Linked DNA regions of Homo sapiens: all the other regions are linked to region 4. Evidence: fine-mapped expression QTL. A gene starts in region 4. Each other region holds a variant in brackets. All regions are shown on one strand. Distances are between the middles of the regions.

Evidence for each region. PIP is the estimated chance that this variant, and not a neighbour inherited with it, causes the effect.
Region 1: its variant is fine-mapped to the expression of STARD3 in whole blood (INTERVAL, PIP 0.98).
Region 2: its variant is fine-mapped to the expression of STARD3 in whole blood (TOPMed, PIP above 0.99).
Region 3: its variant is fine-mapped to the expression of STARD3 in blood mononuclear cells (TOPMed, PIP 0.98).

What each region holds. Positions count from the first base shown.
Region 1 is chr17:39,670,744-39,678,832 of GRCh38, forward strand. It overlaps PGAP3 (post-GPI attachment to proteins phospholipase 3), which reads right to left. Exons shown (of 8, transcript NM_033419.5): 4 at 3,874-3,936; 5 at 3,250-3,311; 6 at 2,771-2,907; 7 at 2,308-2,512; 8 at 379-2,123. The coding sequence ends at 2,060. Among named protein-coding and RNA genes, the nearest start is that of PNMT, 6.3 kb to the left of the region's middle. RefSeq lists enhancers at 3,951-4,498, 4,128-7,534, 4,499-5,044, 5,045-5,590 and a silencer at 5,749-5,808. The variant A/G (reference allele first, on the strand shown) is at 3,904.
Region 2 is chr17:39,455,518-39,463,618 of GRCh38, forward strand. It overlaps CDK12 (cyclin dependent kinase 12), which reads left to right and starts at 5,969. Exons shown (of 14, transcript NM_016507.4): 1 at 5,969-7,600. The coding sequence starts at 6,555. RefSeq lists enhancers at 5,746-6,670, 6,031-6,080, 6,171-6,230, 6,396-7,595, 6,621-6,750. The variant A/T (reference allele first, on the strand shown) is at 4,082.
Region 3 is chr17:39,827,489-39,835,589 of GRCh38, forward strand. It overlaps IKZF3 (IKAROS family zinc finger 3), which reads right to left. Exons shown (of 8, transcript NM_012481.5): 2 at 4,610-4,663; 3 at 1,899-2,000. It also overlaps the pseudogene KRT8P34. Among named protein-coding and RNA genes, the nearest start is that of IKZF3, 33 kb to the right of the region's middle. RefSeq lists an enhancer at 7,908-8,101. The variant C/A (reference allele first, on the strand shown) is at 4,358.
Region 4 is chr17:39,633,810-39,641,910 of GRCh38, forward strand. It overlaps STARD3 (StAR related lipid transfer domain containing 3), which reads left to right and starts at 3,335. Exons shown (of 15, transcript NM_006804.4): 1 at 3,335-3,422. It overlaps PPP1R1B (protein phosphatase 1 regulatory inhibitor subunit 1B), which reads left to right. Exons shown (of 7, transcript NM_032192.4): 5 at 74-277; 6 at 1,798-1,917; 7 at 2,007-2,815. The coding sequence ends at 2,056. It overlaps LOC124903998 (a long non-coding RNA gene), which reads right to left and starts at 3,481. Exons shown (of 2, transcript XR_007065749.1): 1 at 3,182-3,481; 2 at 829-1,217. RefSeq lists enhancers at 1,480-2,103, 3,887-4,006 and a silencer at 3,277-3,346.

The DNA.
Region 1 (8,089 bases), 37 kb after region 4:
TTTCCAGGTGAAGCTCAGAGAGGTGAAGTCACAAACAGTGCAGACTGCTTCAGACCAGAACGAGGGAGAGTGGGGATCATGAGGAGATGGAAGTAGAATCTGCAAGGTGGTGGGGAGGTGGGGGTGTTATGATTGAAGCACAATGGCCGAGGGAAGTGAAAGGGAAAGAACTGGCTCCAGCTCCCTCTCACAACTGGACTTGAGTTCTGCCCAGCTCTGCCTCTGGGGCCTGCCATTCCCCATGCCACGTGCCCAGGCAGAGACCTCACCTCTGTTTACTGCCTCCAGCCAGCTCTGGGACCTGCCCCTGCCGCCACAACTGTCTTCTCCTGCCCTCCAGCCCACCCTATTCACACAAATGAGCTGAACAAGGGCAGGTGAGGCTTGGAATTGATTTATTAAGCACATCCCTTGCCACCCTCCCACCTTAAAAGTTTTCAGTATCAAAAGAAGCTAGCGCAGGCCACCCGAGTCCCTGAGGTTGGAGTCCTAGCATAGCTCCCCTCCCTCAAAGAGGGACAAGGGGTCAGGGGCAGAGCAAAAATCCAGTCTGCTTCAACCACGGAGACTGCCTTTGGGATGGAAAGTTTCTGGAGCTCCCTCCATTCTATTCCTGTGGGGCAGGAACATGCCAGGGCTGCTGGTAAATGGCAGGGGTCACCTTTACCAGGGCGCAGGCATAGTGTGGCCCCTGCCTGCCCTGGGGCCACCCTGGAACAGTAAGACCCTCTGGGAAGGGAAGAAACCAGACCCAGCCATAAGCTTTCTCCCCTTCTCCCTCAAATCGCCCCTTCCTCCTCCCCAAAATCAGGCTATGGCAAAGGGGCTGGCAGCAGGGGAATGGAGGTTTTGGAGGGGAAGGCCAGCCATGCGAAGGCAAGGAGAAAAGGAGGATGGAGAGAGCCCCAGCCATCCCCATTTTCCTTCCTCTGCCTCCGAGGGGCTGCTTCTGGAGGGCACTGTTGTGTGGGGACCCTGTGAGGTTTGCAGGAGGCGGGCAAAGGGGCACCAGACAGGGAACATGCACACAGGCAGCCTGGCCATGGAGAGCTCCTGGCTGTCCGCCCAGGTGGCGCCTTGGGCAGAGCTGGCGCTCCACAAGTGATTATTGATGGTGACAGGATTCCCTCATCCTGCTCCAACCTCTCAACTGTGGACACATTCACCGGCAGTCACTCATCTCACATGCCCACCAGCACGCGCACACACGTTCCCCTAACCCACGCTAACACACCCACCCCCTGCACACACACACTTTGAAGCCACACCTCTTCCCCGACAACACCCGTCTCCACACTGCGCACCTAGGCCTGAGCTCACACACACCCAGGCCCATGCTCACGGCCCTGTCACCTATGCACTCAGCCTGGCCCACACTCCCGACACACGGTGGCAGGCTCTCAACCAGACAGCAGCACAGGATCCTTGCCCTGGGCTTGCTGGAGCCCTGGCCCTGAAAGGGAGTATGGTGAGGCCTCCTGGGAACCTGGCTAGGGCAATGGTCAGGGTGAAACTCCTTCCCAATCCCAGCAGCTTGGTCCCTCAAGATCCCATGGGGAGAATCGCCGTGAACCTTGGCTGGCCAAAGAACAAGCATCCAGCACCACCTAGTGGTGTCCTGGAGGAGGGTGGGGGGTGGTAACAGAAGGGGACCCCCTGTATCCCTAAGGCCTGTGGTCCCTGGTCTCCCAGGTAGACAGAGGGCTTCAGGACCCAGCCAGGCAGCTGGGGATGTGGGGAGGAGGCTGATGGGGAGGAAACAGGCAGCTGTCCTCCCGGTAGAGCTAAGAGCACACTCAGTTCCACCCCAGTTCAGCTCCAGGAGGTAGAGGGGCTGCCCACTCTCGAGTCCCAGATGCTGGGAGGCCTTCCCTAGAACAGACTCCAAGGCTGGTGAGGGCCAACAGGGGGTGGGCTGGCCACATGATTCTGGGCCCACATCCTTCATGTCCAAGTTCAAGAAGTTGAAAAGAGAAAATCATCTCAAGGGTTGAGGGGAGAAGGGAGGCCAGCAGGGCGGGGGCAGGATCCCCACTGGGGCAGACTCGCTCCAAGGTCTTCAGTCCAGCTTGAACTTGTCCTCTGATTCCTTCAGCAGGTACAGGCTGTCATCTTCCAGAAAGCTGTGGGCCAAAGGAGTAGCCCATTGAGGCACACAGCTCTGACAGCTCGCATGGAGACAAGGGTGGGGTGCATGCAGGCAAGGTGGGAGGGGGCGGATGGGCACACAGAGCCCCCAATCTCCCCTAAGGAGTGGGCAAGGAAGGGTCCAAAGAAGGTGAGCACCAGGCAGGGGGCAGCACCCACCTGAAAAAGAGGACGTGGACAGGGATGGTGCTGATGTGCCAGATGGCATGGGCATCCAGGACCCAGAAGAGCGGTGGGAAGTCAAGCAGCTCGAGCAGGGACAGCCCCTGCAGCAGCAAGACCACCACCACGCACTTGCGCACGTGAGGCAGCCGCCGCTGGTTCCACAGGCACCAGGCCAGCCACCACACCACGTTGACCAGGCCTGGGTGCCAGTGGGGGCAGGAGAGACTCATTCCTTCGGCTCCTTCTCCCCAAGGCCACCCCCAACTCCATGCTCTCTGACCCCAGGATCATCCTCGGACTCTCCTCCCAGCCTCCTCTCTCTCCCACCTCAAATTCTTCTCCATTCCTCTACCCCAAGAGTCTCTCTAGAACCTCCTTCTCCAGGAATGGCACCAACCTCCCACTCGCACCCCAAGCTAGCACTTCTGCAGATGGCCCAAGCCCCCCAGGGCCTCACCAATAGCCACGTTGGCCACCAGGTTGTAGCCATAGTCGAAGCGGATGAGGCTCAGGTAGGAGACGTGCACGGTCAGCATGAGCAGCAGGAGAGCCCGGAAGGCACTGACCACAGCTGGGTGCTGCAGCCCCACGGTCCTGCCCCACCGTCCAGGGTTGCTCAGAGGGCAGGTGGCCCATCCCCAGAGCAGCATTCCCTGAAGCATCTCCTCCCCCCAACATTGGTGCATGGCCCCTGAAGTCACTACCCCTCTCCCCACCAAACAGGCCACAGCTGGGCAGCAAGTGCTACAGCTCCTTGTCAGGAGCCAGGGCCCCCAGTCCTACCCCAGAGTCCTCACCCAGGACAGCTGATGTGTTGGGGGTTGGGGGGCGTAGGTGTTGGGAGACTAGTGAAGAAGGCCCCCAGGGGAAGGCTGGGTGACCCCTTTCTGCCCCCAGGGTTCGATTTTGCCCCTGCAGCCACCCAGGCAGGCTCACCTGACGCAGCACAGGTAGATTGAGTGTAGGATGACAGTGGAGGCACAGAAGTAGTCCATTTTCTGAGGACAGGGAAGGGTGGTGAGGGACCAGCATGAGGCTTCACGGAGAGGACCCGCGGGGATGGGGGCATGGAGGAGTGGCAGAGAGGGGCCGGGGTCCTGGGCCTGCCTATCACTGTTTCACTCTGACTGAGTCTTGTGTTCACATCACCATACAAGTTTTTAAAAATGTGCCCAGGAACAAGGCTTTAGGGACGCTGGTGGAGGGTTCCTGCTGAGGCTCCAGGACATGACCACGCTGCACAGAATTCAGAGCACAGTGTGGAGTCTGACAGCCATGGGGTCACGTCCTGTGGCAACCCTTCACTGGCTGGGTGCCCCTAAGCATGTGGTCCCCCTGTCGAAGGCTCAGCTGCCTCATCAGGCAAGAAGAGCGAATACTCATCCCCACCTGATGAGGCTCACTGAGGATCAAGGGCACCAACAGGTTTAGGATGCCCACCCCATACTCCTCCCAGTGCTCCTCAGAGGGAGTTGGCATGACCCTCTAGAGCCCCTCTGCCCACTTCTGGGCTCCTCTGGGACCACCCTGTGCAGGAGGGGGAGCTGGAGGAATGCTCACCTCTGTGAGGTCAGTGTCCCTGGTGTGGAA[A/G]ACTGTGGACCAGAACCATGCATTGAGGGACACCTAAGGAGGGAGGGGCTGGTGAGCATGCTGCCCCCCACCCTGACCTCAAGGCAGGGACCCCCATTTGCTCACATCCATTTCACCTTTGGGAAGGGGCTCTGCAGGACAAGAAATGTGCTTTTCCTGCCCCTGGAGCCCTCTGAACAAACCTATGTCCCTCTACCCCCACCCAGCCAGGGTCCCTGGGGTGGACTTCCTGCCACCCCAAACCCCCAAGGCCACGGGGGGCTGCAGCCTCCACAGGTTCCGGCCTGGCCTGGGAACCAGTTCCGGTATAGCCAAGCTCCCTAGTTACTCAATTGCTAAGACAACAGCCCCCAGGGGCCTTGCCTCCTCCTCCAACCGGCAGGTGTTGACAGCACCACCCCACCCGGGCCCAGGGGAGCCAGTGACCTCAGCCTCTGGGGGCGGGAATGAGGTGGGTGGGGTGGAGGGGCTCGAGCCAGCTTGGGGTGTGTTCCAAGCAGCAGGGGAGGGAGATCAAGCAGATCCCACTGGGGCACAGGCTCCCAGGAGGAGGGTGAACCAAGCCCAGCTTCCTCCTGGCTGGGCCTGCCCAACCCGCCAGACCAGTGGCTGCTCCCGAGCCTGGGAGGAGTAGAGGGCAGGACTGGAGGGGCTGTGGTGGGCCAGGGCCCAGGGGAATGTTTGAGGCCTTCTTCCTGGAAATTAGCTGCGTGGAGAGAGCACAAAAGTTATCTAGCGAATGAGCCTAAGAGCTTGTGGGCGTTGGTGCTGGCACTTTCTTCAGGGACTGCTGTGTCCACAGCAAAGGCCCAAACTGCTGAAAGCAGGGTGGGCTGAAGGGAAGGGCTGGGAAATCGTGACAACCAAAGGAACAGCAGGCCAGGCCGGGAATGGCCTGGAGGTGGGGAGGGATGCGCTAGGGTGGGACAGGCCTGGCGGAGATGAGGAAAGGCCAGGAACTGCTCAGTTGGCTCCAATGTACCAGGAAAACTGGCCAGGCAGGGGACAGAGGGAGGGGGCAAGAAGCTACACTCTGTCTGGCACTGTAGCAGGCAGGTCAGACAGTAAGATGCATTCCAAATGCAGGTCTGGGGAGCTCAGGAGAGAATGGGAGGAGAAGGGGTACAGGCGGGGCAGAACTGCTGCACAGCCAGTCAGGTTCTCGGGGTGCCAAGCTCTGGAAGGCGCAAGGCTGCCTAGTGCCCCTGTCTGGCCTGGGCTCTGGGCTGAGCCTTGCTGCTTCTGCTCCTCTTGACCTGGTCAAAGGGCCCTGCCCTTCTCAGCCCAAGCTTCCCCCGGGACAAATCATGGCTCAAGTGAAACTTCAGTTCCTTTCCAGCCTGGCGTTAGGTGGTGTGGTCTAGGGCAGGCTGCTTCCTCCTTTGAGGATGGCCACTCTGTCCCTTCCACCAGACTCAAGGCTCTGCCCTGCTGCAGCCCCCTCCCCAGAGACAGGCATGGAGGCTGCACAACAGGACTGAACCTGGTGGCTTCTCAGACACTGCTCCCACAGTCTGAAAAGCTTAGAGTCAGCATGGGGAGAGGAGCAGGCTTGGGCTGGAGACGGGACCCAGGCAATCACATGGACCAGTTCTCCCTGGCAGGCCAGGAACAGGGACATCCTTAGGGAGGAGAGTGGCCCTGGAGCCAATGTGGGAAGGAGAAGAGGAAGGCGGCAGGGACTGGCAGCCAGCCAGGCCTCCTTGTCACCCACAGCAGGAAGGGGGAGGTGAGAAGAGGACTGCAGGACTGAGCTAAGTGGCTCAGAACACCGAAAGCAGGGGGTGTGTGTGCGGGCAAACATATGCGTAGGGCCACAGGATGGGTGGGGCTGCTGGGTCCCCTCTCCAACCGCCTCCCTGGGTGCCTTCCACTCACAGAGACCCACCTGAAGCCTGGCCTCTGCACCCCTGAAAAGCCCCTCCCCCCTGGGGAGCATCCCACTCTGGGGGTGCTCCTCTTCTCACCCTTTCCTCAGATTTGGGAGGTAGTGGTATCATTAAGAATGCAAGCCCTACAGCCAGACTGCCAGGGTTCAGTTCCTGGCTCTGCATTTCCTGTGTGTCCTTGGGCAAGTTATTTAGCCTTGCTGTGCCTCAGTTTTCTCATCTGCAAAATGGGAATAATCATAGTTGATAAGGGTTTAATGAGCAATACAAATACAGCGTACAGCACAGAGCCCAGGACAGGCTGAAACATGAGTGTTCTCTCCACTTGCCTGACCAGCACAGAACCCCGTCAGCTTCCCATAGAACTGAGGCCTAAGAGGATGTCTGCCTCCCACTCTCCCTGCAGGCCAAGGATGTTTAGGCAGATAAGGGGTGGTCTCCTAGCTGCCTAGGCCCACCTCCACAGCTCCAGGCTGGGGGAAGAGTGTCCAGTCTTCACAATGAGACAGAGTCTGCATTCAAGTCCTGCCTCAGCCCCTACGCAGCTGTGTGACCTTGGACACATAACCCAGTATGTGTGAGCCTCCACTGCCTCACCTACAAAACAGGTTCATAATGATGCTCACTGCACAGGAGGCCATGAGGACGAGGTCTGCGGAATGCCTGGCACCAAGGAACTCCTCTGAATGGCTGCTGGTTTTGCTGCCTGGTCCATAGTAGGTGCCCATCAATGTCAGTTTCCTTCATCAGGTCCAGTAGACTGACTCTCACCACGCCCGTTCACCTGCCCCTCAACTTCCCTTTCCGCAAGGGTCACAAAGTTTGAGGTCAAACTATGGGGCCTCAGGGTCTCTCCATTCCAGAACGGAGACACCTCAGCTATAGGAAGAGCCCCTCCTCCTTCCTCTGGAGCCATGTTCCCATCAATGTGAACCGAACAGATCCATTTCTCCTCACTCAGAGTTTGTCATCAAGAGCAAGCAAAGGGGAAAGATGGGCTCTGGAAGGAAGGAGAGTTCCAAGATGCCAAGGCACGGCTACTCTCGGACTCCTTGCCACGCTCAAGTGAAGGGGGGCAGGGAGGGGAACTGGCCAGGAGGGCGACAGGCTGCCCAGCAGGCACCCAGAGCTTTGCGTAAACACTGAGGAGAGGGGGTGGCCAGGGGCAGGGTGCCAGTGGGGGTGGAATAGGAGACTGGGTGGAGGGAGAGCAAGAGGCTGTTTCAGTCTGTTGGAAATAAGAAAATCGAGACAAAAATATCACAGCCGTGAAACTGGTTGGATGCCAAGTGAGCCAGATCTGTCAGGAATTCGACCCGGCGCTAAGCCCCAGTGCTCGGGGCTGTCATTGACACCATGGCGGTGGGGACAAGTGGGGCTTAAAATAGCTCAGTGTCTCAGAAGTGGGGGAGGCAGAATGTTAAATATGATGCCTGCTGCCATCCTGGGCTCCTCTGGAGGCCACAGTGTCTCACCCCCTGCCTCAGGCAGGGCAGGCCAGCCCCAGCTCACTCCTGAGAGAAGGGAGACAGAGGTGGATGCGGATGGGAGAAGGAGGGCTTTTTCCAAGATCCCAGAGGATCCCTTGATTTCCTGCCATTGCCTGTTCCACTAGCTCTTGTCTGACCATGGGAAGTCCTTCCTGAAGTCTAACCATCATTCTACTACAGCTGCAACCTACCTCTTCTTGTAGTTTGCTTAACAGAGGAAGAGAAGAATCAGTCCCCACCTACACAAACCACTCTACAGAGATGGTTTGGGCTTCCCACCACTTCACCCTCCTCTCTACACCTGAGGACCTTTCCTGACTGGATGAAGGCCTGGGGAATTGGTTTGGCCTTCTGGCTTTGGCACACAGCAGGGGCCCCTACTCCGTGAAGTCAAAGAGACATGGTATGCGGAGCTTTGGTAGGCTCCCCACCCGCCGCCTGGCTGCTCCCCAGCCCAAGCCCAGGCCTAAATGGCAAGGCAAGGGCTGCCTTCTTGTGCCAGCGTTATCATGAGTCCTGCTGGAGGGCGGGGTCTCCTCATTTCCCAGAGGCAAAGCTGAGGTACCCTTCCCCCAAGACTTAGCCCGGAGCGGGTGAGGGACCTTGCCTTCCTATCCTCACCCCAACAGAAATCAGGAGCCTCAGTGCCCCAGAAGGCCCAGGTCAAAGTCCACTGCCGCACCCTCCATACAGCTCAGGATCCCTCCCTCCTGCAGAAACTCACAGGGCAACTGGGAAGCCCAAGAGCAACTGGGAAAGCCAAACTAGGCCATCCACAGGAGTGTGGGTTCTGAGGCTTTGTTTCTT
Region 2 (8,101 bases), 180 kb before region 4:
GGTTGCAGTGAGCCGAGATGAAGCCATTGCACTCCAGCCTAGGCAACAGAGGGAGACTCCATCCCAAAAAAAAGGCCAGGCATGGTGGCTCACACCTGTAATCCCAGCCCTTTGGGAGGCCAAGGCGGGTGGATCATGAGGTCAGGAGTTCAAGACCAGCCTGATCAACATGGTGAAACCCCGTCTCTACTAAACATACAAAAATTAGCCAGGCATGGTGGCGTGTGCCTGTAATCCCAGCTACTAAGAAGGCTGAGGCAGGAGGATCGCTTGAATCAGAGAGGCAGAGGTTGCAGTGAGCCAAGATAGTGCCACCGCACTCCAGCCTGGCAACGGAGCAAGACTCCATCTCAAAAAAAGAAATTAAAAATAAAAACCTGATCTCATTTAAAAGACAGAAAAATCAGGGTGAATTTTATTGAACTCATGACAACAAACCCATGCCAACACTTACTATGGCTGACTGGTCACTACATTTAATCAGCCCAGGAAGTCTCATGCCATCTGTCATCATGTAAAACATTCAAGGCCAGACACAGTGGCCCATGCCTGTATTCCGAGCATCTTGGGAGTCCAGGTGGGAGGATCCCTTGAGCCGAGGACTTCAAGAGCAGCCTGGGCAACATAGCAAGACCCCGTCTTTACAAAAAATAAAAAAAAAATTAGCCAGGCTCTGTGGCTTACACCTGTAATCCCAGCCAGGAGAGGCTGAGGCTGGAGGATTGCTTGAGCTCAGGAAGTGAAGATGGCAGTGTGTCAGCCGGACACAGTGGTTCACACCTGTAATCCCAGCCCTTTGGGAGGCCAAGGTGGGTGGATCACCTGAGGTCAGGAGTTCGAGACCAGCCTAGCCACATGGCGAAACCCCATCTCTACTAAAAATACAAAAATGAGCCGGGCATGGTGGCAGGCGCCTGTAATCCCAGCTACTCAGGAGGCTGAGGCAGGAGAATCACTTGAACCCAGGAGGTGGAGCTTGCACTGAGCCGAGATCGTGCCATTGCACTCCAGCCTGGGGGACAAGAGCGAGACTTCATCTCAAAAAAAAAAAAAAAAAGACTGCAGTGTGTCATGGTCATACCACTGTACTCCAGCCTGGGCAACAGAGCAAGACCTTGTCTCAAGAAAATAAATCCAGGTTGTCCTGGCAACACTGTACTCCAGCCTGGGCAGCACAGCAAGACCTTGTCTCAAGAAAATATATCCAGGGTGTCCTATCCTCCTATAGCGGTGAATAAGGAGTGTTCACAACTGAGTTCCAGTACTTGTGTTTTTCTTTTCTTTTCTTTTTTTTTTTTTTTTTTGGAGACAGTTTCACTCTTGTTGCCCAGGCTGAGTGCAATGGCACCATCTCATCTCACCGCAACCTCCACCTCCCGGGTTCAAGCAATTCTCCTGCCTCAGCCTCCCTAGTAGCTGAGATTACAGGCATGTGCCACCACGCTGGGCTAATTTTTGTATTTTTAGTAGAGACGGGGTTTCTTCTTGTTGGTCAGGCTGGTCTTGAACTCCTGACCTCAGGTGATCTGCTTGCCTCGGCCTCCCAAAGTACTGGGATTACAGGCGTGAGCCTCCATGCCTGGCCCGTGTTTTTCTTTTTTCTTTTCTTTTTTGAGGCAGGTTCTTGTTCTGTTACCCAGGCTGGAGTGCAGTGGCATGATCATGGCTCATTGCAGCCTTGACCTCCTGGGCTCAAGTGATCCTCCCATCTCAGCCTCATAGTAGCTGGGACTATAGGCAAGCAACACCATGCCTGGTTAATTTCTTGTTTTTGTTTGTTTGTTTTTGGTAGGGACGGAGTCTCGCTCTGTCGCCCAGGCTGGAGTGCAGTGGCGTGATCTTGGCTCACTGCAAGCTCTGCCTCCTGGGTTCAAGCAATTCTCCTGCCTCAGCCTCCCGAATAGCTGAGAATACAGGCCCACACCACTACGCCTGGCTAATTTTTTTTTTTTTTTTTGAGACAGAGTTTCTCTTTTGTTGCACAGGCTGGAGTGCGATGGCCCAATCTCGGCTCACTGCAACCTCCGCCTCCTGCGTTCAAGCGATTCTCCTGCCTCAGCCTCCCGAGTAGCTGGGATTACAAGCATGGGCCACCATGCCCAGCTAATTTTTTAGTATTTTTAATAGAGACGGGGTTTCTCCATGTTGGTCGGGCTGGTCTCGAACTCCCGACCTCAGGTGATCCGCCCGCCTCAGCCTCCCAAAGTGCTGGGATTACAGGCGTGAGCCACCAAGCCCGGCGGCTAATTTCTTTTGTATTTTAGTAGAGATGGGGTTTTACCGTGTTGCCCAGGCTGGTCTCAAACTCCTGAACTCAGGCAATTTGCCTGCCTCGGCCTCCCAAATTGCTGGGATTACAGGCATGAGCCACCTTGCTCGGCCTGTCATTTCTTGTATTTTTTTGTAGAGACAGATGTCTCAACATGTTGCCCAGGCTGGTCTCCAATTTCTGGGCTCACGAATTCCTTCCATGTTGGCCTTCCAAATTGTTGGTTTTACAGATGTCAGCCACCACACTCAGCCCTTTTTTCTTTTTGTTAGCCACTTTTTTTTTTTTTTAGATGGATTCTCACTCTGTTGCCCAGGTTGGAATGCAGTGGTGCAATCTTAGCTCACTGCAACCTCTGCCTCCCAGGTTCTAGTGATTCTCATGCCTCAGCCTCCTGAGTAGCTGGAATTACAGGCATATGCCACCATGCCTGGCTAATTTTTGTGTGTGTGTATATATAAATATATATATATTTTTTTGTTGTTTGTTTGTTTGTTTTTGAAACAGAGTCTTGCTCTGTCACCCAGGCTGGAGCGCAGTGGCACGATCTTGGCTCACTGCAACTTCTGCGTTCTGGGTTCAAGCGATTCTCCTGTCTCAACCTCCTGAATATCTGTGATTACAGGCGATCACCACCACGCCTGACTAATTTTTGTATTTTTAGTAGAGATAGGATTTCACTGTGTTGGCCAGGCTGGTCTTGAACTGCTGACCTCAAGTGGTCCTCCCACTTCGGCCTCCCAAAGTGCTGGGATTACAGGCATGAGCCACAGTGCTTGGCCTCTAATTTTTTTTTTTTTTGAGGCAGAGTCTTGCTCTGTTGCCCAGGCTGGAGTGCAGTAGCGTGATCTCCCCTCACTGCAATCTCTGCCTCCCAGTAGCGTGATCTCCCCTCACTGCAATCTCTGCCTCCCGGGTTCACACCATTCTCCTGCTTCAGCCTCCTGAGTAGCTGCGACTACAGGCACCCGCCACCACGCCCAGCTAATTTTTTTGTATTTTTAGTAGAGACGGGGTTTCACCGTGTTAGCCAGGATGGTCTCGATCTCCTGACCTCCTGATCTGCCCGCCTCGGCTCCCAAAGTGCTGGGGTTACAGGAGTGAGCCACTGCGCCCGGCCTATTTTTGTATTTTTAGTAGAAACAGGGTTTCACTGCATTGGCCAGGCTGGTCTTACTCCTGACCTCAAATGATCCTCCCCTCTTGGCCTCCCAAAGTGCTGGGATTACAGGCATGAGCCACTGCTCCCAGCCACTTCTTTTTTCTTGATAGCATTAATTTTACTTCCATAGAAGATCAAAAAGTTGTCGTGGAAAACTTGGTCTTTTTATTTTTTAAATTTTTTTATTATTTACTTATTTATTTTGAGACGGAGTCTTGCTCTGTTGCCAGGCTGGAGTGCAGTGGCGCGATCTCGGCTCGCTGCAACCTCTGCCTCCAGGGTTCAACCTCTGCCTCAGCCTCACGAGTAGCTGGGACTGCAGGTGTGTGCCACCAAGCCCAGCTAATTTTTGTGTTTTTAGTAGAGACGGGGTTTCCCCATGTTGGCCAGGATCGTCTCCATCTCTTGACCTTGTGATCTGCCCACCTTGGCCTCCCAAAGTGCTGGGATTACAGGAGTGAGCCACTGTGCCTGGCCTGATCTTTTTATTTTAGAACCAATATTTATGGACTCAATCATTTAGAGACGGCGGGCGTGGTGGCTCACGCCTGTAATCCTAACACTTTGGGGGCCAAAGTGGATGGAATGCTTGAGCCCAGGCATCTGAGGTCAGACTCGGCAACATAGCCAGCCCTCCATCTCTACAAAAA[A/T]ATAAAAATAAAAATTAGCTGGGCTGGTGGCCTGTGGCTGTAGTCTCAGCTACTCAGGAGGCTGAGATGGGAGGATCACCTGAGCCCATGAGGGGAAGGCTACAGTGAGTTATGATTGTGCCACTGCACTCCAGCCTGGGCGACAGAGCGAGACCCTTCACACACACACACAAAATTAGGTTAAAAAAAAAAAATGTTTTGGATCGCCCTGTGAGCAAAAGGAACAAGAACATTTACAGAGAGTGATTTTTGAGAATTGAGACTACCTTAATTCAGAATGTTTTCTGGTCCTGAATTTACCAGCTGAACTTCTCCGTTTTGGACAAGCCCCTTCATTTCTCCATGCCTTAGTTTTCTCACTTATACAACCTATTTCAGAGGACTGTTGTGAAGATGGAATGACTTAAGGTAGGCGAAAGTTTTTTAAAAAGTAATAAATGAGGGGCCAGTGTAAGATAGTGTTATTTTCTTGTTAATTAATACTATGCTTTTCTTGTTCATATTATAATCTTTTGTATGAGGATGAAAGGCTAAATTATCCAATAACGGCCATGGGAGGATCTCAAGATGGGATGAGCTTTTAGGTTCTGAGATTTGAAGCAAAGATTGGTAAGGAGACAACACCATAGGATGGAAGAGCTTGTGTTTTAGTCTCAGAAAGACATGAATTTGAATGTTGACTGTGGCACTTGTTGGACCAAATTATTCAACTTCCCTGAGGCTGGGATTCCTTTTCTATAAAACAGGGATGAAAATCTCGTGTTTTGCAGGATAATTGTGAAAATTAGAGATAATGTATGTAAAATTCTTGGCAGGTAGCACACACCCTATATGTGGGAAGCACTGTTAAAACACTCAGGGACTTGGGTTGAAATGTCCCGACATTTGTCTTTTGCTCTGTAAAAAATAATCTCAACCGGGCGCGGTGGCTCAAGCCTGTAATCCCGCCACTTTGGGAGGACCAGACGGGCAGATTGCTTCATTCTAGGAGTTCAAGACCAAGGATCGCGGATTGCTTGAGTCTAGGAGTTCGAGACTAGCCTGGGCAACATGGCGAAACCCCATCACTACGAATAATAGAAACAAATTAGCACGGCGTGGTGGCGCGACTCTATAGTTCCAAGTACTCGGCAGGATGAGGTGGGAGGATTGCTTGAGCCCAGGAGGTGGAGGCTGCAGTGAGCCGAGATCGTGCCACTGCACTCCAGTCTGGGCAAAAGAGAGAGAACTTGTCTCAAACAAACAAAAAAATGGCCCGGCGCGGCGGTTCACGCCTGTAATCCTAGCACTTTGGGAGGCCGAGGCGGGAGGATCACTTGAGGTCAGGAGGTCGAGACCAGCCTGGCCAACATGGTGAAACCCTGTCTCTACTAAAAACAAAAAAGTTAGCCGGGCGTGGTGGCGGGCGCCTGTAATCCCAGCTACTCGGGAGGCTGAGGCAGGAGAATCGCTTGAACCCAGGAGGTGGAGGTTGCAGTGAGCCGAGATCGCGCCACTAACACTCCAGGATGGGCTACAGAGCGAGACTCCGTCTCAAAGGAAAACAAAAAACAAACAAAAAAAAGTCATCCTGGTAGTTAAAAGATTTGTTAAAAAGGATGTTGAAATTATTTTGTCACGGAGCCTGGGAGTGTTTGTTTAATCAGTTACCGATAAAGTTTTGGTTAAAAAAAAAAAACTCGGTTTGTTCCGTTTCAATAAAGCTTTGCTCAAACGGGGAGCTCCGGGAGCTCATCGCGAGACTCAGGTGAAACGCGTTTCTAGTTTGGGACCTGATCTCGCGTTGTTTGATAAGCAGGGGAATGAGGTGAAAGCGAAGCACGAAACATCGCGAGAGGCTACTGGACTCTCGCGACGATTTCTGGGATTGCCCCTCCCCCCTTCCCCAAGTGCCGTTTCGGTTTAATCTAGTGTGTGACTGGGTCTGTGTGAGGGAGAGAGTGTGTGTGGTGTGGAGGTGAAACGGAGGCAAGAAAGGGGGCTACCTCAGGAGCGAGGGACAAAGGGGGCGTGAGGCACCTAGGCCGCGGCACCCCGGCGACAGGAAGCCGTCCTGAACCGGGCTACCGGGTAGGGGAAGGGCCCGCGTAGTCCTCGCAGGGCCCCAGAGCTGGAGTCGGCTCCACAGCCCCGGGCCGTCGGCTTCTCACTTCCTGGACCTCCCCGGCGCCCGGGCCTGAGGACTGGCTCGGCGGAGGGAGAAGAGGAAACAGACTTGAGCAGCTCCCCGTTGTCTCGCAACTCCACTGCCGAGGAACTCTCATTTCTTCCCTCGCTCCTTCACCCCCCACCTCATGTAGAAGGGTGCTGAGGCGTCGGGAGGGAGGAGGAGCCTGGGCTACCGTCCCTGCCCTCCCCACCCCCTTCCCGGGGCGCTTTGGTGGGCGTGGAGTTGGGGTTGGGGGGGTGGGTGGGGGTTGCTTTTTGGAGTGCTGGGGAACTTTTTTCCCTTCTTCAGGTCAGGGGAAAGGGAATGCCCAATTCAGAGAGACATGGGGGCAAGAAGGACGGGAGTGGAGGAGCTTCTGGAACTTTGCAGCCGTCATCGGGAGGCGGCAGCTCTAACAGCAGAGAGCGTCACCGCTTGGTATCGAAGCACAAGCGGCATAAGTCCAAACACTCCAAAGACATGGGGTTGGTGACCCCCGAAGCAGCATCCCTGGGCACAGTTATCAAACCTTTGGTGGAGTATGATGATATCAGCTCTGATTCCGACACCTTCTCCGATGACATGGCCTTCAAACTAGACCGAAGGGAGAACGACGAACGTCGTGGATCAGATCGGAGCGACCGCCTGCACAAACATCGTCACCACCAGCACAGGCGTTCCCGGGACTTACTAAAAGCTAAACAGACCGAAAAAGAAAAAAGCCAAGAAGTCTCCAGCAAGTCGGGATCGATGAAGGACCGGATATCGGGAAGTTCAAAGCGTTCGAATGAGGAGACTGATGACTATGGGAAGGCGCAGGTAGCCAAAAGCAGCAGCAAGGAATCCAGGTCATCCAAGCTCCACAAGGAGAAGACCAGGAAAGAACGGGAGCTGAAGTCTGGGCACAAAGACCGGAGTAAAAGTCATCGAAAAAGGGAAACACCCAAAAGTTACAAAACAGTGGACAGCCCAAAACGGAGATCCAGGAGCCCCCACAGGAAGTGGTCTGACAGCTCCAAACAAGATGATAGCCCCTCGGGAGCTTCTTATGGCCAAGATTATGACCTTAGTCCCTCACGATCTCATACCTCGAGCAATTATGACTCCTACAAGAAAAGTCCTGGAAGTACCTCGAGAAGGCAGTCGGTCAGTCCCCCTTACAAGGAGCCTTCGGCCTACCAGTCCAGCACCCGGTCACCGAGCCCCTACAGTAGGCGACAGAGATCTGTCAGTCCCTATAGCAGGAGACGGTCGTCCAGCTACGAAAGAAGTGGCTCTTACAGCGGGCGATCGCCCAGTCCCTATGGTCGAAGGCGGTCCAGCAGCCCTTTCCTGAGCAAGCGGTCTCTGAGTCGGAGTCCACTCCCCAGGTGAGCTATTTGTCTAACAGTCCTTCCTCATTTAGGGTGGGTTGCGAGGAATTGGCATTCAGCGTGTTAACATTGTCTGGAAGCCCGCAGTGTTCATCATTGACTAGAACACTTTGCTGTTGGCTAGTCATTCCAGTGTGTGAATCTGTCTCCCCTTAACCCAGAATTCGAGAAGTGAAGAGTACATAGGCCTCAAACCGCCAAAGGTAGGTACTTCCAGTGGTGGGGTCTTCAGTTGTAAGCTTCTGAGTGAGAAACGTCAAAGGCTTCTGCTTAGTGAGTGGATGGAGTTGATACTAGTTCCCAGAGCATGTCTAGCTATTTCTGTTGCTTAGTTTTATATTTTTAAAAATCACATTGGTATTTGTGCTTTAGACTCTATGGGACCTGGTTGAAGACTTAAGAAATTGGTATGGAAGTTACTTGCCTAGTTTATCCTATTTGTGTTGTCCACTGAATCCCCAAACCTGTACATTTATTCATTTCCTACTTGGCACTGTT
Region 3 (8,101 bases), 190 kb after region 4:
ATAGAGATGAGGCCTCACCATGTTGCCCAGGCTGGGCCCAAATTCCTGGGCTCAAGAGATCCTCCTGCTTCAGCCTCTCAAAGTGCTGGGATTACAGGTGTGAGCCACTGCACCCAACCTATAAATTGTTTTTGACGGGGATAAACACAGACTCTGGAAGGGGCTTTGCTTACCTGGTTGTATACACAAATGGTCAGTACCACGAAAGAACCAGAACAGAAGATATTGCACCAATTTGAATGGCTGAGCCACATTTCTTTAGACTAAGGAGCACTCTACTTACAGCCCATAATGTCAAACAATGGGCAAAGAGCTATCCTCCTCAGAGTAGTAGTTTGATAGATATCTAAAATAGGGTAAGGTATAGGTGTGAAGGGTTGGTTTATGCATTTGCACAAGTGTGAGGTCACATTGAAATGAGCTAAGGGAGTGTTCCCACTAGGTAGATTCCTCTGTTTTTCTGGTGGATTAGGGAAGAGGAGGTGGGGGAGGATGCTGATATGACTATACAATTCTTGCCAAAGAGGAGGATATTGGTGTGATGACTATTCTTTTTTTCCTTCCCTACATTGTCACATCAGCTTTCTCTTTCCTACCAGATGCAGTGGTTGCAATACCAGCACTGTAATTACAAGTGCCAGAAACAGAGATGATTTCTAAAGCAAGAAAGTGTAACCGTAGCTTTAAACCTTTATGTCAGAACTCCTAAGGGCCTGATGAGGCAGGCTGTGCCTTTACCCCATCTGGCAAAATTGGGGTTAACATTGAATGCAGATGTATTGCCTAGTGGTAGAAATAGCCCACTAGTTCCGTACCTGTGTAACCCTATCCTGTATGTATGGGAGTTGACTGAGGGAGAGGTGCTTGCTAGACTAGTATTGCTGCCTACGATCTAGACCAGTGCAGTGGTCAAACCTAATATTCCTCCCAAAGGTGGGAAAGTTTGGGCATAAACAGTAAGAAGGAGGAAGAGTAGCTGAGAGTAAAGGAATGAATAAATGAGTTATGTAACAAGTCCTGTGAGTCATCCTAGCAAATTATTAAACATGTGGAGGGGAGTCCCCGATTTTGTAGCTAAGTCAGACAAAAGTGCAGGTAACCTGGGGACCTGGTACTTGAGACTGTTGTCTAAAGTAGGGAGAGTACTGTGCAGTACTGTGAGACTGAGCCTGTAACCTGTGCGGTCTACGCAAACATCAGGAATTACAATCAGAATTGAATTGAAGTGGGCTGGGTATGGTGGTTCATGCCTGTAATCCCAGGACTTTGGAAGGCTGAGTTTGGCAATCACTTGAGGTCAGGAGTTCCTGGCCAGCCTGGCCAACATGGTAAAACTCCGTCTCTATTAAAAAAAATACAAAAATTAGCCGGGCATGGTGGTGGGCGCCTGTAATCTCGGCTATTTGGGAGACTGAGGCAGGAGAATCACTAAAACATGGGAGGCGGAGGTTGCAGTGAGCCGAGATTGCGCCACTGCACTCTGGCCTGGGCGACAAAGTGAAACTCCGTCTCAAAAAAAAATAATAATAATAATTGAATTGAATTGTTGGACACCAAGTCATTGTCGGAAAACCAGAAAATTGGTTTGTTGGTGTCAGAAAACACCCCAGACAAACTTTCTACAATAAACATGTATTACTTTTATAATGGAAAATAGTCAAACATCATGTTTTAAGTGAAGTTAATATAATTGGAACACTGGATAAGCACCTTAAATTCTCAAAATTTGCTGATAACCTACAACTATGAAATGCAAATATTTGTGAAATTAACAAAACAGAATCACTCCTAACTAAACCTACAATTGCAAGTTTTCCTTGGAGAGCTGATTTCTTCTCTACACTAAGCCTAAGCAATATCTACAGGCATCAGTGTTTAGTCTGCACACTACGGCTCACCTCCTATGTCTTCATCTTCATTGGCTGGGCCTTCTCCACTGTCCACATTTTCCATTTCATGAGATTTGGTTAAACTGTAGTCATTCAAAACCGCTGCACTTTCTAAAAGATAAAAGGAATTTTAAGTATGTGGTTCAACGTTAAAGGATTTTTATAAATATATATTAAGTAGACCCCCATTTAACTTTCAGCTTCACACAATCCTTTAGTGACAGATAGTACCCCTTCACACATACCCAAAAGGGATGTATACATGAAAACTCTTGAGGTTTAGAAATAAGCCCAGGGTTCGCAGTGGCTCACGCCTGTAATCCCAGCACTTTGGGAGGCCGAGATGGGCAGATCACCTGAGGTCAGGAGTTCGAGACCAGCCTGGCCAACATGGTGAAACCCCATCTCTACTAAAAATACAAAAATTAGTTGGGCATGGCGGTGCATGCCTGTAATCCCAGCTACTCGGGAGGCTGAGGCAGGAGAATCACTTGAACTCGGGAGGTGGAGGTTGCAGTGAGCCAAGATAGCACCACTGCACTCCAGCCTGGGTGACAGAGTGAGACTTCGTCTCAAACAAAAAAAAAAGAGAAAAGAAATATGCCCAGGGTTCATGTACCCTCTGAATACACACAACTTTCTTGAATATTTCTTTCATCTGAGTTAAAGGGCACTCATGTTCCTTCTGGAGAAAAACTATCTCTCCATTGGTATATCTCACGATATTCAGTAGGATGCCATTGCTATTTATGACAAAGTAGTGACCAGAAATACTAAGCGTGCAAACACTGGCATAACCTAATTTGGGAAAGATGCTTTCCTAGGAGGAAGATCTGTAAGCTTTCTGTATGCCAAATTCTGTTTTTCCCTTCTGTTCACATTATAAATGTGATTCTGTGGAAAACATATTGGACCCCAAGTTTCTTTATTTGTTTGAACATTTACTGAATGTTGACAAGGCTACAGATATGAATAAGTCATTATGTCTTCAAGGAGCTCATACTTTGAGATATAGATAAGAGAAGCCCACAACTCTAACACATGGTAGGCTCAGACAAAGGATTAAATAAAGGAAATACAAAGTGTTATTAAAGTTCATAAGTGAAAGGGAGCAGACATAATAAAGACATGCTTAAACAAACAGCAAACTTGTTACAAAATAAGTTTAAGAGAAATGTATAATAAATATTGATAATACTAGAAGAAAAAGGAACAATGCAACTGGAATTATTTTCACATATAGGCATAGTAGCTTAACAAAAAGATGATAGCAGAAGAAATGAACTGAAAAGTTACCCTCTTTTTATCTAACTCCTTCCCAATCTTCAATAAAATATTTGCTGAGTTCCCATTAATATAAAAAATAGTCAAAGACACTGAATCCTGTGGCACTGAGGCTGGGCTGAAGTAGGGAGGTAACTAGAAGCTCTGCAGTGGCACTCCTTTCAGCTGAGCCATGACCAAACACACGCGGGAGCGAAAGAGAAACACGTTTCACAAAACCCATCACTAAGAGCCCCTGAAAATGTGGTCACCATGGACTCAGTGTTTGATTTATGAATATCTGAAGTTTCTAATTTCTGCATATTATGATGTATACTCTGTGAACTCTAAGATACCATTCTAAACAATGGTTCACTTTTCTCAAGCCTGAAATGACTAAAATATAGTGGACACCTAAACAATTAATATGAGATTTAGGTTCAGTTAAAAGATGTGATTGGCCGGGTGCGGTGGCTCATGCCTGTAATCCCAGCACTTTGGGAGGCCGAGGCGGGCGGATCACCTGAGGTTGGGAGTTCGAGACCAGCCTGACCAACGTGGTGAAACCCCGCCTCTACTAAAAATACACCAGGCATGGTGGTGCATGCCTGTAATCTCAGCTACTCAGGAGGCTGAGGCAGGAGAATGGCTTGAACCCGGGAGGCTAAGGTTGTGGTGAGCCGAGATCACACCATCGTACTTCAGCCTGGGCAACAAGAGCGAAATTCCGTCTCAAAAAAAAAAGAAAGAAAGAAAGATGTGATTACAAGTTACAGTAACACAAAAAGGCATTTCAGTGATAAATTAAATTTTGTAATATAATGTAAGCTTTGATTCACACAGTGAGTTAATCAATGGAGGACACAGAAGTTATTTTCAGGAAATAAATTATTGTAAATGTTTATAATTTATTCTAGAGCAGGGATCAGTAAACTATGGCCTGAGGTACAAGTCTGACCATAGCCTGCTTCTGTGTGGGCCCAAGAGGTAGGAATGGTTTTTACATTTTTTAAGGGTTGTAAGAAATACAAAAAATAATACGTGACAGAGACCATATGTGGCCTGCAAAGTCTAAATATTTACTATCTGGCCCTTTACAAAAAAGTTTGCAGACCACTGTTCTACAGTAAAAATCGCAAGTCATTCAAATACAAGCTACTATATTATTCAACAAAAACTGTCTTCAGAGCAATGAGCTGAAAAAT[C/A]AAAAACAAACAAACAAACAAACAAACAGTGATCAACATTAGGTAGTGTATGTTTGGCCCTAAGATGCTAAAGAACTTACATGATCTAAATGGATGAGTTATTTTTTCATCAGCAACAGACAACCATATTTAAAAAAAAACACACACACATTTCCATAGCATTTTTACTGCAACCAGAATAAGCACATTCCTCTCTCTTTGGTATTTTTTTTAGTAAAGGTATATTTCCAGAGAGGAAAGACCTGATGTTACCTGCGGGCACAGACTGCTCCTGAGTGCTTTTCAGTTCCGCATTTGTTTGTATATCTGAAAAGAAAGAGGTTATAAATATTAGCTACTTAGGGTACATTTCTACAGGTTTGAGCATTCCAAATTTAATAAGGGATACCATTTCGGAAAACTTAACAGCAGAATTCCTCTTTCAGAGCAAGATTACTCTTTCTCTATATTCTCCCTAAAAGCCTTTCAAGGAGCATGAAAAAAAAATATTGATGCAGCAATGTTACTCTAAGAACTTTCTGCCAGAGATCTACTTACACCAAGAACAATATGCAAAAAGTGGGTTCCATTAGAAATAATTTCATATATTCTTTATTCTTCCCCAATATTTTATTATGAACACATAGAAAAAAAGAGTTCAAAGTGGTATATATATATATATGTACATATATATGTACATATATATAATGAAATACTATTCAGCAATTAAAAAGAATAAAATCATGTCATTTGCAGCAATATGGATGGAGCTGGAAGTCACTATGTTAAGTGAAATAAGTCAGGCACAGAAAGACAAATATCACATGTTCTCATTCATATATGACAGTAAACACGTTGATCTCATGGAGGTGGAAAGTAGAATGATAGACAGGGTGTGTGGGTGGGAATGGGGGATGAAGAGAGATTAGTTAATGGGTAAAACATATAGTTACATAGAAGGCATAAGCTCTAATGTTTGACAGCAGAGTAGGGTGACTATAGTTAACAACGACGTATTATATATTTCAAAATAGCTAGAAGAGAGGACTTGAATTGTTTCCAACACATAGAAATGATAAATACTCAAGGTGATAAACATTCCAAATTCCCTGACTTGATTATTATATATTCTATGCATGTAACAAAATATCACATGTGCCCCATAAATATGTAAAATATTATGTATCAATAAAAAATTTTAAAAAAAGAACTGCACAGTTGAACATCCATTACTCACCCTCTGGATTCTACAATTAACATTTTGCTATTTTTGCTTTCTCACATATGTTTCCACCCATTCATCTCTCAATCCATTCATCGATCCAGCTTTTTCAACGCATTGCAAAATAAGTTGCAGATATCAGTATACCTCAGTCCTAACATTTCAGCATGATTATTATTAACTAAAATTCAATATCTGTTTACAAGATTTTAAAAAGTAAATTTTACATACAGTGATATGCATGGATCTTAAGTGTACCATTCAATGAGTTTTTAAAAATGCATATCCTCATGTAATGCAAACCCCTATCAAGATACAGAACATTACCATCATCCCAGAAAAGCTCCCTCACATCTCTTCCTAGTCAATTCCCACCCACATACTCCAGAGACAACTACTGTTTTGACTTTTTCCACCATAGATTAGTTTAGCCTATTTTAGAACTTCATAAAAACAGAATCACACAGACATATGGTATAAATTATTTTGCCCGAGGCTTCTTTCACTCAACATAATGTTTTGAGATACATCCATTCTGTGGTGTTTATCAGTAGTTCATTCTTTTTTATTGCTAAGTAGTATTCCATATGAATATCCCAGTTTGTTTATCCATTCTCCTATTGATGGACACCTAGACTGTTTCCAGTTTGGGCTATTTATAAGTCAAACTACTATGATATTCCTTTTTAAAATAATAAACTTTTAAATTTTAGAGTAGTTTTAAATTTATGGAAAAATTGCAAAGATAGCACAGAGAGTTCCCATATACCCCACACCCAATTTCCCCTATTATTAACATCTTATATTAGTATGGTACATCAGTTATAATTAATGAATATATATTCATACATTATTACTATCTAAGTATTCAGATTTCCTTAGTTTTCATCTAATGTCCTTTTTCTGTTGCAGGATCCCTTCCAGGATCCCACATTACATTTAGTCATCTTGTCTCCTTAGGCTCCTCTTGGTTGGGACAGTTTCTCAGACTTTCCTTGTTTTGATGATCTTGACAGTTTTGAGTACTGGTCAGGTATTTTGTAGAATGTCCCTCAACTGGGATGTGTTTGTTTTTCTCATGATTAGACTGGAGCATGATCATCCTTGCACAAGTATTTCTGTGGTCATATGCTTTCATGTCTCTTGAGTCAATACCTAGGTGTGGAATTACTGGGTTATAGGGTAGGAGGCATATATCTAGTTTCAACACAGTGAAACTAGAACTTGTTCAAAAGTGCTTCTTCCCTCTACTTTGGGCTTAACTTACTCTGCTTCTGCCCTCTTAAGGTGAAATTTTAGTGACTGACTTTATTCCTTTCTTCTTTTCTAATTGTAAACATTTAAAGCTATAAGTTTTCCTGTAAGCATTGCTTTAGCTGCATCTCATAAATGCTGATGTTTTGATTATAATTCAGTTCTAATTTCCCTCGAGTCTTCTGTGATCCACTGGTTATTTATAAGTGTTTAATTTCCAGATATTTGGGGGAATTCGGGAATTCTTTAGCTAACTTGTTATTGAAGTCAAATTCCATTGCACTACAGTCAGAGAACACAGTCTGTGTGACTGTAGTCCTTTTAAAAGTATTAAGACTGGTGTTCTTGGTGAATGTGCCATGTGTAGTTGAGACATATGTATGTTCTGGTTTTTGTTGGTTTTCTTTGTTTGTTTTGTTTTGCTTTGCAGATCTGGCTGAGGCTTTATTTTGGAGGAAAAAAAAATGATGTAATTGTTTTGTAGCTGGAGGCATGGGCAAGGGGGGTATCCCAGGCAGTAAACTCCCCATGGGTGGGCTGAGGGTTAGGGCTGAGCCTCAGGTGGGTCTCCTGTTCCCTATACTCCCCTGCACAGTGGCCTCCTCCACAGGCTCTGGAGAAGCCATGGGAGGGGGTAGGCTGGGAGGGGCTGCTATGGCCTTTCACCTGGGCAGGACATCAGAGGACTGGGACACCAGCTTCCCATCGTGGTCTTGATCTTCTTCACAACCACAGCCCTAGAGAAGCAGGCACAGCCAAAGGAGCTGGAGCCCCCGCCAGAGCCAAAGCTGGATCCCAAGCCATAGCTGAGGCCAGGGCTTGTAAGGCCCCTGTAGGCTGAGCTCAGCCCACCTGAGTAGCCCCTGGTGGTCTTCATATGGATACTCATGCTCTGCATCCCAGACTTCAGCTGGCTCTCCTTGCCCTCCAGCAACTTCCTGTAGGTGGCGATCTCAATGTCCAGGGCCAGCTTGATGGTCATCAGCTCCTGGTACTTGAGCAGCTGACGCGCCACGTCCTGCTTGGCCCACTGTAGGGCGGCCTCCAGCTTGGACCCCCTGGCATTGGCATCCTTAATGGACCGCTCCCCACACATACACAATGGCGGCCTCCAGGGAAGCCCTCTGGCCTTTGAGGCCCTCTGTCTCAGACTGGAGCCGGCTGATGTTCCAGTTTATCTTGGAGATCTCCGTCTTTGTACAACGCAGGTCATCCTGTGCTTCCCAGGCAGGGTCTGCAGCTCCTCATACTTGATCTGGTGCATGCTGTCAGCCTTGGCCTGGCTGCGG
Region 4 (8,101 bases):
GGCCACAGGCTATCTCCAGATCCATGGGCTGTGTCTAGCTGACCCTTGCTTTCCTCGGTCTCCTCTGTGCCAGCTGTGCAGCGCATTGCTGAGTCTCACCTGCAGTCTATCAGCAATTTGAATGAGAACCAGGCCTCAGAGGAGGAGGATGAGCTGGGGGAGCTTCGGGAGCTGGGTTATCCAAGAGAGGAAGATGAGGAGGAAGAGGAGGATGATGAAGAAGAGGAAGAAGAAGAGGACAGCCAGGCTGAAGTCCTGAAGGTCATCAGGCAGTCTGGTAAGCTGAGGGGCCTGTGACATGTGGATTAGCTGTGGGTCCTCCTTGAGTATACGAGGACGTCCCCTTCTAGTTCAGTGTCTCATACACGCAAACTGTAGTGACACCACAGGGGCCTCCCTGTCTTCTCGCTCCATGGGGTGCCCCGAACTCAGCCCTACCTGAGACATGGGTTTCCTCCATCCTTGGCTCAGTCCCTCTCCCAATCAGGTTTTCCCTAATAATTCCTCTCTTCCCTGAGAATTAAGGCCAAGGCCGTTTGGGGTTTGAGGCTAGAGCCAAAAGAGGACTTCCCACCTATGGCAGTAAGGGGGCGTGAGGACATTCAGGGATGGAGGACCAGGAGAGTCCAACACCCCTGTCACCTGCATTTCACCTACATTTTTGAACCTAGGATGTGGTCTCTGCTGGGGTGCAGAGGGCTGCCTCATTTACTTGCCCTCTCCAGGACTGTTGTCTGTTTCTCCTCTTTTTCCTTCCTAGGATGGAGTGGGAGGGTGCCCTCTAGTGTTTAGATGTAGAATTTAAAATTCAAGAACCAGCCCGGCCCATTAACCTTTTTAGTCTCATTATTTATGGGAATACTGAAGAGTCAACCACCCCTACTAGAAGCTGTCAGCTCTTCCACACAAACAAAAGGCCTTGGGCCTCCTGCCTGCATATCTGGCAGTGAAGAGATTGGCCATGGGGGCAAAAGCTGTTGCTGGGCTTCAGTCCCTTTGTGGGCAAGAGACAGCTGGAAGACCTGAATCAGTCCTCACTGAGACCCCTCCAAAACAGTGGAAGAGGGGTGAGAGGAGACTGTTCCCTCAGGAAAAGCAGCAGGTGGCTGGGTGCGGTGGCTCATGCCTGTAATTCCAGCACTTTGGGATGCCAAGGCTAGCGGATCACTTGAGGTCTGGAGTTCAAGACCAGTCCAGCCAACATGGTGAAACCCCATCTGTAATAAAAATACAAAAATTAGCCAGGCACAGTGGCACACACCTGTAATCCCAGCTGCTTGGGAGGCTGAGGCAGAAGAATCCCCTGAACCTGGGAGGTGGAAGTTGCAGTGAGCTGAGATCGCACCACTGCACTCCAGCCTGGGCAACAGAGTGAGACTCCATCTCAAAAACAAAAACAAAAAACCAAAACAAAACAACAAAAAAAAACAAACAAACAAAAAATGCAGAAGGGCACCGGGTCAAATGATAGTCCTATGATGGAGCAATATAAACCACCACGACTCCTAGTGGCTCCTGGGTGCTGGCGCTGGGCTGGGCAGGGTATTCACTATTACATCTTGTTTAAGGTAATCTACACAATTTCCCCCTTTCTATTTCCTTCAGAAAGGTACTAACTGACTTACGTAAGCCATATGGCTAGTTGCTGGGAGAGCTGTTCTAGCCCAGTTCTCTCTCCATGCTTCCATGATGCCCCTGGAAAGCTTAACCTCAGCCATCAGACACTTAGCTCACACTCCAGGACAGCCGGATGGATACGCAGAGCCTGTGTTCTTATCTCTTCTTTCCCATCCCCAGCTGGGCAAAAGACAACCTGTGGCCAGGGTCTGGAAGGGCCCTGGGAGCGCCCACCCCCTCTGGATGAGTCCGAGAGAGATGGAGGCTCTGAGGACCAAGTGGAAGACCCAGCACTAAGTGGTAAGGCTTGGGAGTGTGAAATGGGGAGGAGGGGCTGGGATCTTGGTGGGTGGGGCCAGGCCCTGAGTCCCTCTCTGCTTGCCTTTCAGAGCCTGGGGAGGAACCTCAGCGCCCTTCCCCCTCTGAGCCTGGCACATAGGCACCCAGCCTGCATCTCCCAGGAGGAAGTGGAGGGGACATCGCTGTTCCCCAGAAACCCACTCTATCCTCACCCTGTTTTGTGCTCTTCCCCTCGCCTGCTAGGGCTGCGGCTTCTGACTTCTAGAAGACTAAGGCTGGTCTGTGTTTGCTTGTTTGCCCACCTTTGGCTGATACCCAGAGAACCTGGGCACTTGCTGCCTGATGCCCACCCCTGCCAGTCATTCCTCCATTCACCCAGCGGGAGGTGGGATGTGAGACAGCCCACATTGGAAAATCCAGAAAACCGGGAACAGGGATTTGCCCTTCACAATTCTACTCCCCAGATCCTCTCCCCTGGACACAGGAGACCCACAGGGCAGGACCCTAAGATCTGGGGAAAGGAGGTCCTGAGAACCTTGAGGTACCCTTAGATCCTTTTCTACCCACTTTCCTATGGAGGATTCCAAGTCACCACTTCTCTCACCGGCTTCTACCAGGGTCCAGGACTAAGGCGTTTTTCTCCATAGCCTCAACATTTTGGGAATCTTCCCTTAATCACCCTTGCTCCTCCTGGGTGCCTGGAAGATGGACTGGCAGAGACCTCTTTGTTGCGTTTTGTGCTTTGATGCCAGGAATGCCGCCTAGTTTATGTCCCCGGTGGGGCACACAGCGGGGGGCGCCAGGTTTTCCTTGTCCCCCAGCTGCTCTGCCCCTTTCCCCTTCTTCCCTGACTCCAGGCCTGAACCCCTCCCGTGCTGTAATAAATCTTTGTAAATAACTGCTGAGACTCCTCTTTCAGGGGAAGCAGGAGGAAAAGGGAGGTAATGGGGCGTCCTGATAGGGAAGGCCGGTGGTCAACCAAGGGTTAGGGTTTTGACCCTACTGTCCAATCCTCTAGTCTAGGAGTCTTTCTGGCAGACAGCAGGCTCGGGGCACTCAGAGGAAGAACTACAGAAGTTCTAGCTGCTGCTTGGGATGGCTGAAGGAGGCAGGTGGGGTGGGGAAGTCCTTCTCGAATAACTGGATTCCTCCAAAGATTTCCCCATCCCCACAGGACTCCCCTCGGGAAATTCCCCTTTTTCCCTCAGTGCCAGGCCTGTGTGGCCTAATAACGACGGCCCTGGTCTTCTTCCCACTCCCCTACCCTTAGGTAGGCCCTTAGACTCCGGCCTTTGAGTCCGCTTCTGCGCAGGGCCGGGGCTGGAGGCGGGGCGAAGGGGCGGGGCCGCAGGCGAACGCAAGTCCCGCTTCGCTCTCGGGGGCGGACTCAGCGGCGGAAGTGGCGCTGCCGGAAGATCTTCTTCCGCTCTGAGGCGCTACTGAGGCCGCGGAGCCGGACTGCGGTTGGGGCGGGAAGAGCCGGGGCCGTGGCTGACATGGAGCAGGTGGGTCCCGGAGCGGTCGCTGGGAGCGGGTGGCGTGCGAGGGCCGTCTTCCGCCGGTCGAACCCGCTTCGCCGCCCGCTGTCCGTGCTGGGTTCCGTCCGACCCTTCCCACACCCGCTGCGTCTCAGGTTCCGCCCCCTTCCTCTGTCTGGCCTCGCGCCGCCCCGCGCGGGTTGGGGTCTCCAGCAATGACTCTTGGCGACCCCGCCTATCCTGGGGAGCCCGGGGAGGACGTTCGGGATCTCCTTCCAAAGCCTCCGTCTTAACTGAGGGGAGAGGAGAGGGTGAGGTGTCTGGGTGTTATGAGCAGGGGCAGGTATGGGGAGGGGTCGGAATCTGGGGTGAGAGGAAAACATCTACGCATTCCGGTAGCTCTGCGTCTCAGTGTCATCCCGTGTCTCCCCAACTTCCTTTCGAAACGGCCGTGAATAACTTCCTAATTGGTATTAAAAGGGCCCTTTGAAGTCTTGAGTTCTTAGAGGTGCATAGTACCATTGACACTCATTTCTAATGACACGTTCCCTCACCCCGCATTTTTGGGTTAGTCAATGTCTCCTGGTTTTCTTCGTACCGCTCTGACAGTCGGTCAAAGTCCCGCTTCACGTTTTCCTCTGTCGCCCAACCCCTCGCTCTGTACACTGAATCTCAGTGGTCTTATTTTCCCCCACGGCTTCAGCTTTACACCAACTAAATACCCAGATCCACATCTTCAGCGCAGCCCTTCCCTGGAGCTCCACGCTTGCCCATCCAGCGGCCATTGGGACAGCTCTGCTTCACATGGAGCTCACTGGGTCCAAACTTGAACTGGTCTTTTCCTTGCAGATTAATTCTTCCTCTACCCCAACCCAGCCGGAAGTCTGGTAATTTCCTTACACTTTCTCCTCTCTTTCAAGTCCCACATCTTAAAAGTGACCTAGTACTGCCAACTTCCTGAACATCCTTCAAACCTGGGCCAGCTCCATCTCTTCTGTTACCACGCTGTTGATGTATTGTCAATTCCCAACAGTCCAGCCCTGGCAGCTTGCAACCCAGTCTCCAAACTGTAACTCTTGTGATCCTTTTAGAACACAAGTCTTACGGTGCCAGTTCCTTGCTGATAACCTTTTTCTGGCTTTCTATTGCCTATGTGCTGAACCCCTAGCACAATTTACACAGCTCTCTGTGATCTGACCTAGCAGTCTCCTGTGTGCACCCTAAGGTCCAATAATACGGCACTGCAGCATGCGCCATGCCTACCCTTGCTGTTCGTATCTTCATGACTTTGCACACACCAGCCCCCGCTGCTTGGAAACCTCCTCCTTCTCTTGTCTGCTGGGCTACCTTCTACATGTTTTTCAGCGCAGGCAGCGCTGCCTCCGCCTAACCCCCAAGGTTAATTGCCCTTCTGTGTCCTGTAGCACCCTGTCCATAATAGCATAGTAGCTGAGAATACAGACTCCTGGATCAGACTGCCTGGGTTCTGACCTGTTTGGTAACCTTGATGAAGTCAGTGCCTCAATTTCCTCACTTGTAAAATGGAGGTAGGAATGTCTCTACTTCATAGAGTTGTGAGGATTGAATGGAATATTGTATGTTTAGGTCTTAAACCAGTGCTAGGCACAAGAATGCTCAATAAATTAAAGTGAGTTGCCTGGGTGCAGTGGCTCATGCATTAATCCTAGTACTTTGGGAGGCAAGGCAGGATGATCGCTTGAGGCCAGGGGTTTGCAACTAGCTTGGGCAACATAGTGAGACCCCATCGCTACAAAAATTTAAAAAACTAGCTGAGCATGGTGGTACGTGTGGGAGGATCCTTTGAGCCCAGGAATTTGAAGTTACAACGAGATATGGTTGTGCCACTGCACTCTAGTGTGAGGGACAGAGTGAGATCCTGTTTCTAAAATAAATAAATAAAAAGTTATTACTATTATGTAAGGACAACATAGTTCACCAGTTATGATTTTTAATTTCATAAGTTGCCTGAGGATGGTTGAAGTGGCTTACTAGTCATTGGATAGAGCCTGGCTCTTTGCCAATAAATAAAATGCTGGAGTGGAGGACACTGGGGGCAGGGTCTGGATTTATTGAGTGAAGATTCAAGAGTGAAAAAGGCTCAGACCTGGTCTGCTCAGGAAAACCAGTCTGGAAGTGTGTGTGTGTTACATGGCAAGCATTAAATCTAGAGAAATGTATAGATCTGGGAACTAGAGGGAGAAAAAGACCAGGGGCGGCTTCTGAGGAGCTGACAGTTAATGGGGCCTATAAAGCGATGGGAGGATTTTATCAGAGGGAGGCAGAGGCTGGAGTGGGCTCAGAGATCAGAAAGCTGGGTCCTCTGAACAGAGCTCCAGTAGATGGTGGCTGGGTGGGGGAACAGGGGAGACGGAGCTGAGGAAGACAGAGGCAGCGTCCTTTGCTGACGCTGGCAATTCCTTTCCTGTATTGGCCATGAGGAAGCATCCCTTGACTTGGGAGCCAGCAGGGACCATGCCTGGGGGCAACTATGCTCCGGAGGCCTAGTACCTGGTGTTTGGGACCAGGCCCCCTGGGTAGGGCCATTGTGCATGCCTTTGGGCTGGGCCTTCTTTGGAGCTCTTTTGCCTCCCTGTAATGCCCACCCTCCTTGCCTCCAGCTGATAGATGCTGACTCTTCAAGGCCAGGGTCAGATGGCCCCTCCTCCCTGTGGCTTTTCTGACTTCACTCATTCCAGCCTGGGTCAGATGATCCCTTCTCTGGGAGCCCACGGTCCTTTGTTCATTCCTCCCTGAAAGCGCTGATCACAGCATGGTATTATTTATCTGCCAGTCTTCCTCACCAGACCCAGAGTCCCTGATGGACCAGAACAGGGTCCTGTGGCCCCAGGACTTGCACTGTGTCCAGCATACTGTAGGCCCTTGGAACCCGCATGTTGCATTAAGTTGAGCTCTCACACAGCTAGACTTGTTAAGGGAGAGCGGTGCGGGGGAGATAAAAAATCCGGCACATCTGGCAGCTTGTGCCTGTTCCACTGAATGCGAGAGCCTGTTGGCTCCACTTTACAGATGAGGAAGCTGAGGTTCAGGGGAGGTAAGGTCAAGATCACTCAGCAGGGATTTAAAGAGCTGTCTCCTGACTCCAGGTCTGCATGTCTCCCAGAAACTGCCTTGGGGTCCCAGCCTCCAAGGGGGCAGGTGCCACATCAGTGGGACAAAAGAAAAGTGTCCCTTTTTCTGGCTGAGGAGAGGCTAATCCTGGCTTTGTCCAGGCAGGGTTGGTGCCTGGAGGATCCTGTGCTGAAACCGGCTCCCTTCCATCCCCCCAACCCCCCCACCCCTTGTCCCTTGCCCTATGGGGGCCTTTTCTTGAGAGGGCTGAGATCTCTCCTGGAAGATGACTAGCCGTTTCCAGACTAACCTTGGGAACTTGACCTCACTGGTTTACATAGCAGCACGAAGAGGGCAGGTGGGGCCTGATTCACTGGCCCTGAGTGGGTCAGGGGTCATGGAATCACAGAACTGGGGGCATCCCTGATGATTCACAGGGCCTGGCACAAGGGGGAAGGGAGGGCAAGTAGATCTCAGTGTGTTAGGGTCTTCCTGTACACTGCACCCGCAGAGCCTCCCCGGCTGGGGGGAGAAGTGTGTGGTGGTGAGTCTTGTTTCTATTTGGCTTAACTCTTCCCCTTCCGCTTCCTCAGAAGGAAAGGAGAAACAGAGCCAGGCTTTGGCTTTGGGTCTTATTTGTCACTGTAGCTGTGTCCTCCTCTCCCTACACTCCCACTTCTCCAGGGGATTTCCCAAACCCTCTGTGGAGGGCTATAGTAGGGCCAGTCAGCCAACCATCCCGAGGCTGATGGCATGGGCCAGTAACCCTGAATGTGCCATCCTAGCCAGGCGCAGTGGTGCACACCTGTAGGCTCAACTACTTGGGAACCTACTCCCAAGTTTTTGACTCCAGGATTGATGTCCAACCCCAAACCCACACCCTTTCTCCTGTTCCAGGGTGGACATTACGGATCCACAGACTAGCTAACTTACTAGACATGTACCGTGGCCAGGCACTGTGGCTGTGACTTGGACCTCAAGGGCTTAGGACAGATGGCCTTGAAACATCTAGCTGTGATAAGGGAAATGCTGACCCAGAGTTACTTGGGAGGCTGAGGCAGGATTGCTTGAGCCCAGGAGTTTGAGACCACAGTGTCCTATGATCGCGCCTGTGAACAGCCACTGCACTCCAGTCTGGCAACATAGTGAGACCTGTCTCTTAAAAAAAAAAAAAGTGTCATTCTGGGTCAGCCCCCTGAAGCCAGGGTCTACCCTTCCATTCTGCAGTACTGCTGGGACTCTCAGTTTGGGCAAAGTGCTATGCTGGACCTGCCTGGCCAGGGTCCTGCCTCTAACACTGTCCCCATGGGTAATAGTAGTAATAGCTGCTATTAATTAAGCACAGACACTGTGCATGTGTTGTTTCTAATCCCTTCAAGCTCTGTGAAGTAGGTACTATATTCTCCCCATTTTACAGAAAAGGAGACTGAAGTTCAGAGAAACCCAGTGATTTGGTCAAGGGCACACAATCTAATAAGGAATGGCCTTAGGTTTTTGCCTCCAGGACTGGTGTCCAACCCCAAACCCACACCCTTTTCCCTGTTCCAGGGTGGACATTATGGATCCACAGGCTAACTTACTAGACATGTATCATGGCCAGGCACTGTGACTGTGAC